Linked DNA regions of Homo sapiens. The protein of the gene in region 1 purifies or fractionates together with the protein of each later gene. This does not show direct contact. Each region holds a gene or a part of one and is shown on either strand. Other genes may lie near its edges.

Evidence for each region. The genes of interacting proteins can lie anywhere in the genome.
Region 2: the proteins of CCR1 (region 1) and ARHGEF10L purify together in Homo sapiens (affinity purification with mass spectrometry; one large-scale study listed by BioGRID and IntAct). This does not show direct contact.

Annotation. Positions count from the first base shown.
Region 1 is NC_000003.12:46,201,211-46,205,313, forward strand, and holds the end of CCR1 (C-C chemokine receptor type 1), read right to left. Parts: intron 3,115-4,103; 5' UTR 3,104-3,114; coding exon 2,036-3,103; 3' UTR 501-2,035; downstream 1-500. UniProt on the Homo sapiens protein: Chemokine receptor that plays a crucial role in regulating immune cell migration, inflammation, and immune responses.
Region 2 is NC_000001.11:17,637,198-17,640,697, forward strand, and holds part of ARHGEF10L (rho guanine nucleotide exchange factor 10-like protein), read left to right. Parts: intron 1-690; coding exon 691-806; intron 807-1,364; coding exon 1,365-1,492; intron 1,493-2,040; coding exon of another isoform or gene 2,041-2,044; exon of another isoform or gene 2,045-2,634; coding exon of another isoform or gene 2,635-2,656; exon of another isoform or gene 2,657-2,784; intron 2,785-3,004; coding exon 3,005-3,105; intron 3,106-3,500.

The DNA.
Region 1 (4,103 bases):
CCAGACAAAAGTTTTCAAGACCATCATGACACCAGCTTCTTTGTACAAAGACCACATGTGAACACAATTCCCACTGAAGGGGGTGTGTGGTTTGGTAAGAGTGCAGCTCTAGTGTCCACAAAAGGAGAAAAGTCAGCCCAATGGTGTCACTGTATTGTAAGGTGGGACACCCGTCAGCTTAGGGTGTCTTCTGACTGATGATTCCTTCTTCCCTTTTACTGCCTTGGCACCCTGAGCTCTGCAGTCCCCCCAACCCCCTGCCATGCTGCCTGGGCCCTGTTGGCATCCCTGTGTCTGTCTGGCTCACTGAGCTGAGCACCCTGCAAGAACAGACATTCCTCATGCACCAGTGTCTCTCATGGCTCAAGAGCTTGCTTTGAATGGAGCCCACAGTCATCACTGCTGGGTTGAACTGATTTGTGCAAGCAATAGTGGGTAAACAGGTGGAGTAAATTAGGGTGCATCCCTGCCAACGACTTCAGTGCAGGCACCAAAAACAATGCTTTGAAATGATTTATTCACCTGGGAAAGTGATCACAACTTGCTGCTAATTAAAACCAACAATAGAACAGTGAGTACAATTGAAGTCCATCATTGTTATTATCATAAATATGCACCCAACAAAAAACAAACTAAAAGAAAATACACTCAAAAGCACACAGTGGGCACATTTTGTCTTTGGGTAGTGGAAGTGTAGGTAATGTCAGTGTTTGGGGTTTTTCTTTGAATTTTTAAGCTGTTTTAGAAATAAGTTTTGTTATTAGGAAAATTATTTTTAAAGAAATATACATCTGAGGGAAAAGAGAACAAAGGCATGATAAATAAGGGGTCCTTGGTTGGAGATGATGCATCCAGAACATTTTGGATAAATAAGCTACTTTGAGTTAAGGGCCTTCTCGGCCTCCTACATCAACACAGAATCTCACCCCACCCTCCTAGTAGACACTTTCCTCCCAACCCCCTATCAGCTACAAATACTGTCAGCTTACACAGCAGGCCTTATTATTATTATTATTTTTTTTTTTTGCTGACAAGTCCAAGATGGCAGTCGGAACTCTGACCCATAAAACCAGAAGGCTTAGATGAAGAACAAAAAGAAGGGAAACCAACCCTGCTTCCTTTTGCCTGTTATTAATCGCTGCAATAAAGCCATTAGAATCTACCAACATATCACCCAACTTGAAAAGAAGAGAGATTCTGAAAAATAGTCAGAAAAGAAGGGTAAATGGAAATGATGAGTCCCTCCCCTTTATGGCTATTTTAAGAAGCACACCATGTTATTCATATGGCCCGTGCTTAGCCCACTCCCTGAATTGTTTGATTTTAGTGGATATAAAAATTCTTCCTAAGGGCTTTCTTAGTTCCACTGCCAGCAGTAGTTCCCCATTTCTATTTCTCGTTAGGTCTCAACTCTTCCGTCATGAGTTCTATGTTCCCCAGGATTCCAAGAGCCCAAATCCTGCGGTGGGAGTGAAGGGGAGGCAGATGCTGGCTACTGATTGGCTCTGGGACTCAGAGTGGAGTCACTGTGGAAATCACTATTTCCAAGTTCTTTGGCAGTGGGAGGGTGGCGGGGGGGGGGAGGTGATGGAAGAACAGAAATTCCTCATACATCAGTGTCTCCCATGGCTTAGGAGCTCACTTTGAATGGAGCCCACAGTCACCACTACTGGGTTTAATTGGTTTGTGCAAGCAATAGTGGGAAGTGGGTGACTTTGTTGACAAATGCTAATGGTCACAAATCTGAAATCTTGCTTGAGTCCAAGCCCTTCTCTGGTACACTTAGTCCCAGTCTCTGGAATATTTGGTTTTGCTCATTCATCTTCTTTCTACCAGGGGAGAAGTTCATGGAAAAGACTGAAGCCCCAGAAGCCTCAGAAGCCCCAGGCCACCATTACATTCCCTCTCTATCCCAAGTGGCTGTGACTCCATGCTGTGCCAAGAGTCAGAACCTGGCTGGGAGAGCCAGGCTGCTGGCTCAGTGTGCCTGGCAGGTCACGCCTGCTTATTTTGGGTTGGCCTCCTATGGTCTGAGTCAGAACCCAGCAGAGAGTTCATGCTCCCCTGTGGAGGGAGATGTGGAGCTGACCCTCTCCAGCCTGTCCACGGAGAGGAAGGGGAGCCATTTAACCAGGTGCACAGCCACACGCCTGTGGAACAACTGCCGCAGGTACTTCCGGAACCTCTCACCAACGAAGGCGTAGATCACTGGGTTGACACAGCAGTGCGTGTAGGCGATCACCTCCGTCACTTGCACAGCCAGGTCCAAATGTCTGCTCTGCTCACACTCATGGGTGAACAGGAAGTCTTGGAAAACAGAAATAAGTATAGTCAAATTGTAGGGGGTCCAAAAGAGAAAAAAGATGATCATGATGACAAAAATCAAACGGACAGCTTTGGATTTCTTCTCATTTGGTCGTCTTAGCAGAATCTTTATAATCCCTGTGTAGCAGATGATCATGACCAACAAAGGCAATACCAGCCCAAAGAGGTTCAGTTTCAGAGCCTGAAACAGCTTCCACTCTCGTAGGCTTTCGTGAGGAAAGTGAAGGCTGCAGGTGTGGTGAGTGAATTCCCATTGGGTCTTGGAAAAGTATAAGCCTGGCATGGAAGCCAAGATGGCCAGGGCCCAAATGATGATGCTGGTGATGACACCAAAAGTGACGGTCCGTGCCCGCAAGGCAAACACGGCGTGGACGATGGCCAGGTACCTGTCAATCGTCAGCAGGATGATGAAAAAGATCTCGCTGTACAAGCCTGTGTAATAAAACCCAGAGAGGATCTTACACATGGCATCACCAAAAACCCAGTCATCCTTCAACTTGTAGTCGATCCAGAAGGGAAGCGTGAACAGGAAGAGCAGGTCAGAAATGGCCAGGTTCAGGAGGTAGATGCTGGTCATGTTTTTTAGCCTCTTGTATTGCACAAGGACCAGGACCACCAGGATGTTTCCAACCAGGCCAATGACAAATACCAAGGAGTACAGAGGGGGCAGCAGTTGGGCCCCAAAGGCCCTCTCGTTCACCTTCTGGCACGGAGTTGCATCCCCATAGTCAAACTCTGTGGTCGTGTCATAGTCCTCTGTGGTGTTTGGAGTTTCCATCCCGGCTTCTCCTACAGGTTAAAAAAAAAAAAAAGATTTGTCTTTACTCTGCTACTAAAGGCAGTGGGCACTGGACAGTAAAGACAAGGGAGAGGTAACATTTTTTCAGCCACTCCATAAATGTTTATTGAGTGCCTTCTGTGTACCATGCCCTGGGGACAAAATGGAGTGTTAGAGAGACCCAGATCCTCTCTGCCTTCTAGGAATCTTAGTCTAACAGGGAGTGGAAGCAATAAGTAAATGAGTGCACAAATCATTAATTCAATCATTTCAGCAAAGAGTTTTGTAAGGGATAAGTTCAATGGGTGGAAAGCCAGAGGGAGACCTTACCATACTATTCATAACCAACACTTCCTAAGCACCCCCATGGCCTAGGCACTGGACTTAGGGTTAAAGAGCCCTGGAGGGGTCCCATTGTTGTTCTTATTTAAGAGGTGATGAAACAGAGGTTCAGAGTGGTTAGGAAACATGTTCAAGGACACACCTCTTGTGAGAACAGACCTGGAGCTCCAACCCAGCTGTGCATCATTCTCATGCCCGGCCCTGACACCACTACGCTTTCCTGCTGCTGTCCCCGAGCAGTAGCTTTGCACTGTGGAGCCCACAGGAGGACTCTGAGAAGGAAAATGGTCCTGGCTCAGAGAAAGATACAAACAGATATTCATGGCTTTTGGTCTAAGAAGATTCTCAGCCGAGAGTGACCTAGTACCCTTGGGGCACTTGGAAATGTGTGGGCATTTGTTGTTGTTGTCACCAAAACTGGGGGATGCTACCGTCATTTGGTAGGCAGGGCCAAGGATGTCCTACAGTGCAGAGATCATTCTACCCCAAACACCAGTGGTGTTGCCATAGTGAAATCCTAGTAGGTCAACCCCATTATTTTGGAGATGAGGACACTGAGGGCACCAGAGTGGGCTGAGCCTGACCCACATTGCACAGTCCTTAGGTGGCACAGGTAGATCTAAGGTCACTTTGCAGACCTCCTGAAGGAGAGGAAAGT
Region 2 (3,500 bases), on another chromosome or scaffold:
ACGATAGGTCCTCAGGATGTCTTTGAACAACTTGCTGTTCATGGGCTGCCTCAAGCCACAGTGCCTTTGCACACGCTCTTGTCTTTCTCTCCTGGCAGTGCCCACCACACTTCCAGCCCTATGCAGGCCCCTCCTCTCTCCCAGGCACAGCTTGCTCTTGGTCTTGTGGTCTCATACAGCCCTTTGTACAGACTGACTATGGCCTGGATCTCAGGTGTTAGACTTTACTCTTGAAAGGATCTGGCTTCCCAGCTAGTCTGGGCGCTCTGGTCAGGGTAGGAACTGGATGTTACTTTCTGGAACTCTTTCTTTTTTTTTTGGGTTGGAGTCTTGCTCTGTCACCCAGGCTGGAGTGCAGTGGCGTGATCTCGGCTCACTGCAAGCTCCGCCTCCCAGGTTCACGTCATTCTCCTGCCTCAGCCTCCTGAGTAGCTGGTACTACAGGTGCCCGCCACCATGCCCGGCTAATTTTTTTCTTTGTATTTTTTAGTACAGACGGGGTTTCACCGTATTAGCCAGGATGGTCTCGATCTCCTGACCTCGTGATCTGCCTGCCTCGGCCTCCCAAAGTGCTGGGATTACAGGCGTGAGCCACCGCGCCCAGCCTCTGGATCTTTTTTGTTGTGAGCAGATGCTTGGCTTCTTGTTAGCGCCTTCACCTGTGCCTGAGTTGGTCTCTTCTCTGCCCAGATAAGGTGTACCTCGGCCCCCCACGCCTCTTCCAGGAGCTGCAGGACCTGCAGAAGGACCTGGCCGTGGTGGAGCAGATCACGCTTCTCATCAGCACGCTGCACGGCACCTACCAGGTACGTGGCCTGGCCTGACCTTTTTGGCCTGAGCTCCCCAGTGTGGGCAGTGCCTGGATTCAGAAAGCTGAGTAGGGAGGGGCTCCTCTCCTGGCCCATGTCCCCGATGTGCTCCTAGCTTCTGAGCTCCTGTTGGCAACTGTCGCTGCTGAAGCTCCATGTCCCTGCCTGGAAGTCTCTTTTGCGGCCGCTGGTTCGGGCGCATCCTCTGGTTTGGGTTGAGTGGAGCCTGGCTGTGGGGCCTTTGTTTGTTCTCTGCACAGTGGCCATTCCGTTATGTGGCCCCTCCTGGGCCTCTACCCAGTGTGGAGGGGAAGCTGGCTGCGACGGCATGTCCCTCTCAGAGGAGGGCTCCAGGTGGGATCTGAGCCCAGGGCTGGGAAGCCTGGGGCATGGCGAGTTGGCCTCCTGCGTGGGGCTAAATGTGCAGCCTCAGTGAGGCTCCAGGACTTCTTCAGTTTCTCTTCCTCTGGGGTGCTGTGATTCCTATAGGATCTGGTGTGGCTTTTGGGGAGCCAGTGTGCTGTGTGGTGACCTCATTGGCCTCCTGAACCCTAGAACCTGAACATGACTGTGGCTCAAGACTGGTGCCTGGCCCTGCAGAGGCTGATGCGGGTGAAGGAGGAAGAGATCCACTCGGCCAACAAGTGCCGTCTCAGGCTCCTGCTTCCTGGGAAACCCGACAAGTGAGAGGAGGGGGTCTTGGAGGGAGGGCTGCTGCCTCTGCTGGGCTTCCAGTGGAGCAGGGGATCCGGAGAGGGTACCTGGAGCCCTCTTATTTGTCGAGATGCCATGGTGGGAGTGGATATGTAGGCATCGTGGGCCATGTCTGGGATAGCATCTGGCACGCAGTAGGTGCTCATGAAAAGACTGTGGAATGAATGAATGAATTAATGAACAGCCTGGTCATGTCCTGGATAAGCCTGGCCCACTGTTAGGATACTCAGACACTCTGCCATTGGTCAGTTCCATTTGCGCTGTGTCCTTTTCAGTCACTTCAGCCTATCTAGGCCCCCAGGCCAGGCCCTGGGTTTCCTCTCTCTGGACCCAGCCTCCCCCCAGCACCACCTTAGCCCCAGAATGCCCACCACAGGAGCTGTGCACAGTAGACCCCAACTGAGGTTTGTGGAACTGATGACAGCCATAGCTGCTCGGCCTGGCAGAGACAGGGAACGGGATCTTTCTGGTCCTCCTGAGGCTTTGTAAGTTGGGTCTTTTTATTTCCATTTTACAGATGAGGAAGGTGAGGCTCAGAGTTTCAGGAGAGGCTGAAGGCCACATCGTGAGAGACAGAGCTGGGTCCTGATGAGGTCTGACTCTGAAGCCCAGGCCAGTGCAATGAGGGGGCTCAATGCCCAGGTTTTGGCCTCCAGGGTGGGGTGAAGGTGGGGATAGAGTGTCACAAGCACAGTGGCTGCAAGGAAGAGAAGGTTGGAGCACTATCATTTGAGGTAGGACCATGGGCTCAGTCCCCCAGGGGACCATGTGTAGGAGTCAGCAGCTTTGAATCTGCCGCCTCCCTGTTGAGTGGCCTGTCCGTCTCCCTTCCTCCATCTCCCTTCTCTCTGCCTCTCATTCTCCACGTGCACCCTAGAGGCTTGTGACACTGCCCTGCCCACCTCCCAAAGGGCTGGGAAGGCCCCCACTGCTCTGAGGTGAGAGGACAGCGTGGTGACAACAGCAACCTCTGGTTGCCCCAAGCTGGTGCTTAACCTGATTCATTCATTTCTTCATTCATTCCTGTGTCCACTCAGCAAACATTTACTGAGCAACTGTCCCATGCCAGGTGCTGGGAACAGACCCAAGTGAGACCCATTCCTCCCTCTAGAGGCACGTGGTCAGACATGTAAGGTGTCTAAGACCTGTGGACAGCTGACCGCTGACCAGGTGGAGTCACAGCCTGCAGAGGCTCTGCCGGGCACAAAGCCAGAGGCTCCTGGAGCCAGGCTGGGGAGCGTGGCTCAGCCACCCTGGCCAGGTACCTCCCTCTGGGGGTCATTGTGGGCGGAGGGATTCCTCCCCCAGGGGACCGAGGCTTTGCCAAGCCACTGACCTCTTTGGCCACGTTTTGGGGATGCTCTGACCAGACCTCCTTGATCTCCAGGGCGCGTGGGTTGGAGGAAGTACTACGTGACAGCTGGGGGAGCCTGGCCCTTGTGTGGGTACTCACACATCCACTCTAACCCTTCTCACCACAGGTCCGGCCGCCCCATTAGCTTCATGGTGGTTTTCATCACCCCCAACCCCCTGAGCAAGATTTCCTGGGTCAACAGGTTACATTTGGCCAAAATCGGACTCCGTGAGTATAGCCCCAGGGAGAGTGCCTCAGGGGGCAGGGGTGTGGAACGGGGAGGTTTGGGGTGAGTGAGGGTACAGGATGGGTGTTCGGGGTCAGCGGGGGGCAGGGAGGCTTCTGAGTGGGAGGGAGGTGGTGCGGTGGAGAAACAGCTGGGGCCAGAGCCGGAGGCTCTGCTTTGTGACCCTGGACAAGTCACTTCCCCTCTCTGAGCCTCAGCTTCCCCATCCAGGAATTGATGGAACTTGACAGAAAGTAAATTAGTGGTTGCCAGGGACCTGAGAGGAGAGGATAATGGAGAATGACTGCTAGACTGCTAGGGGTTTTGGTGGAGGTGATGAAAATGTTCTAAAATTAGATGGTGGTGATTGCTCAACTCTGTGACTACACCAAAAATC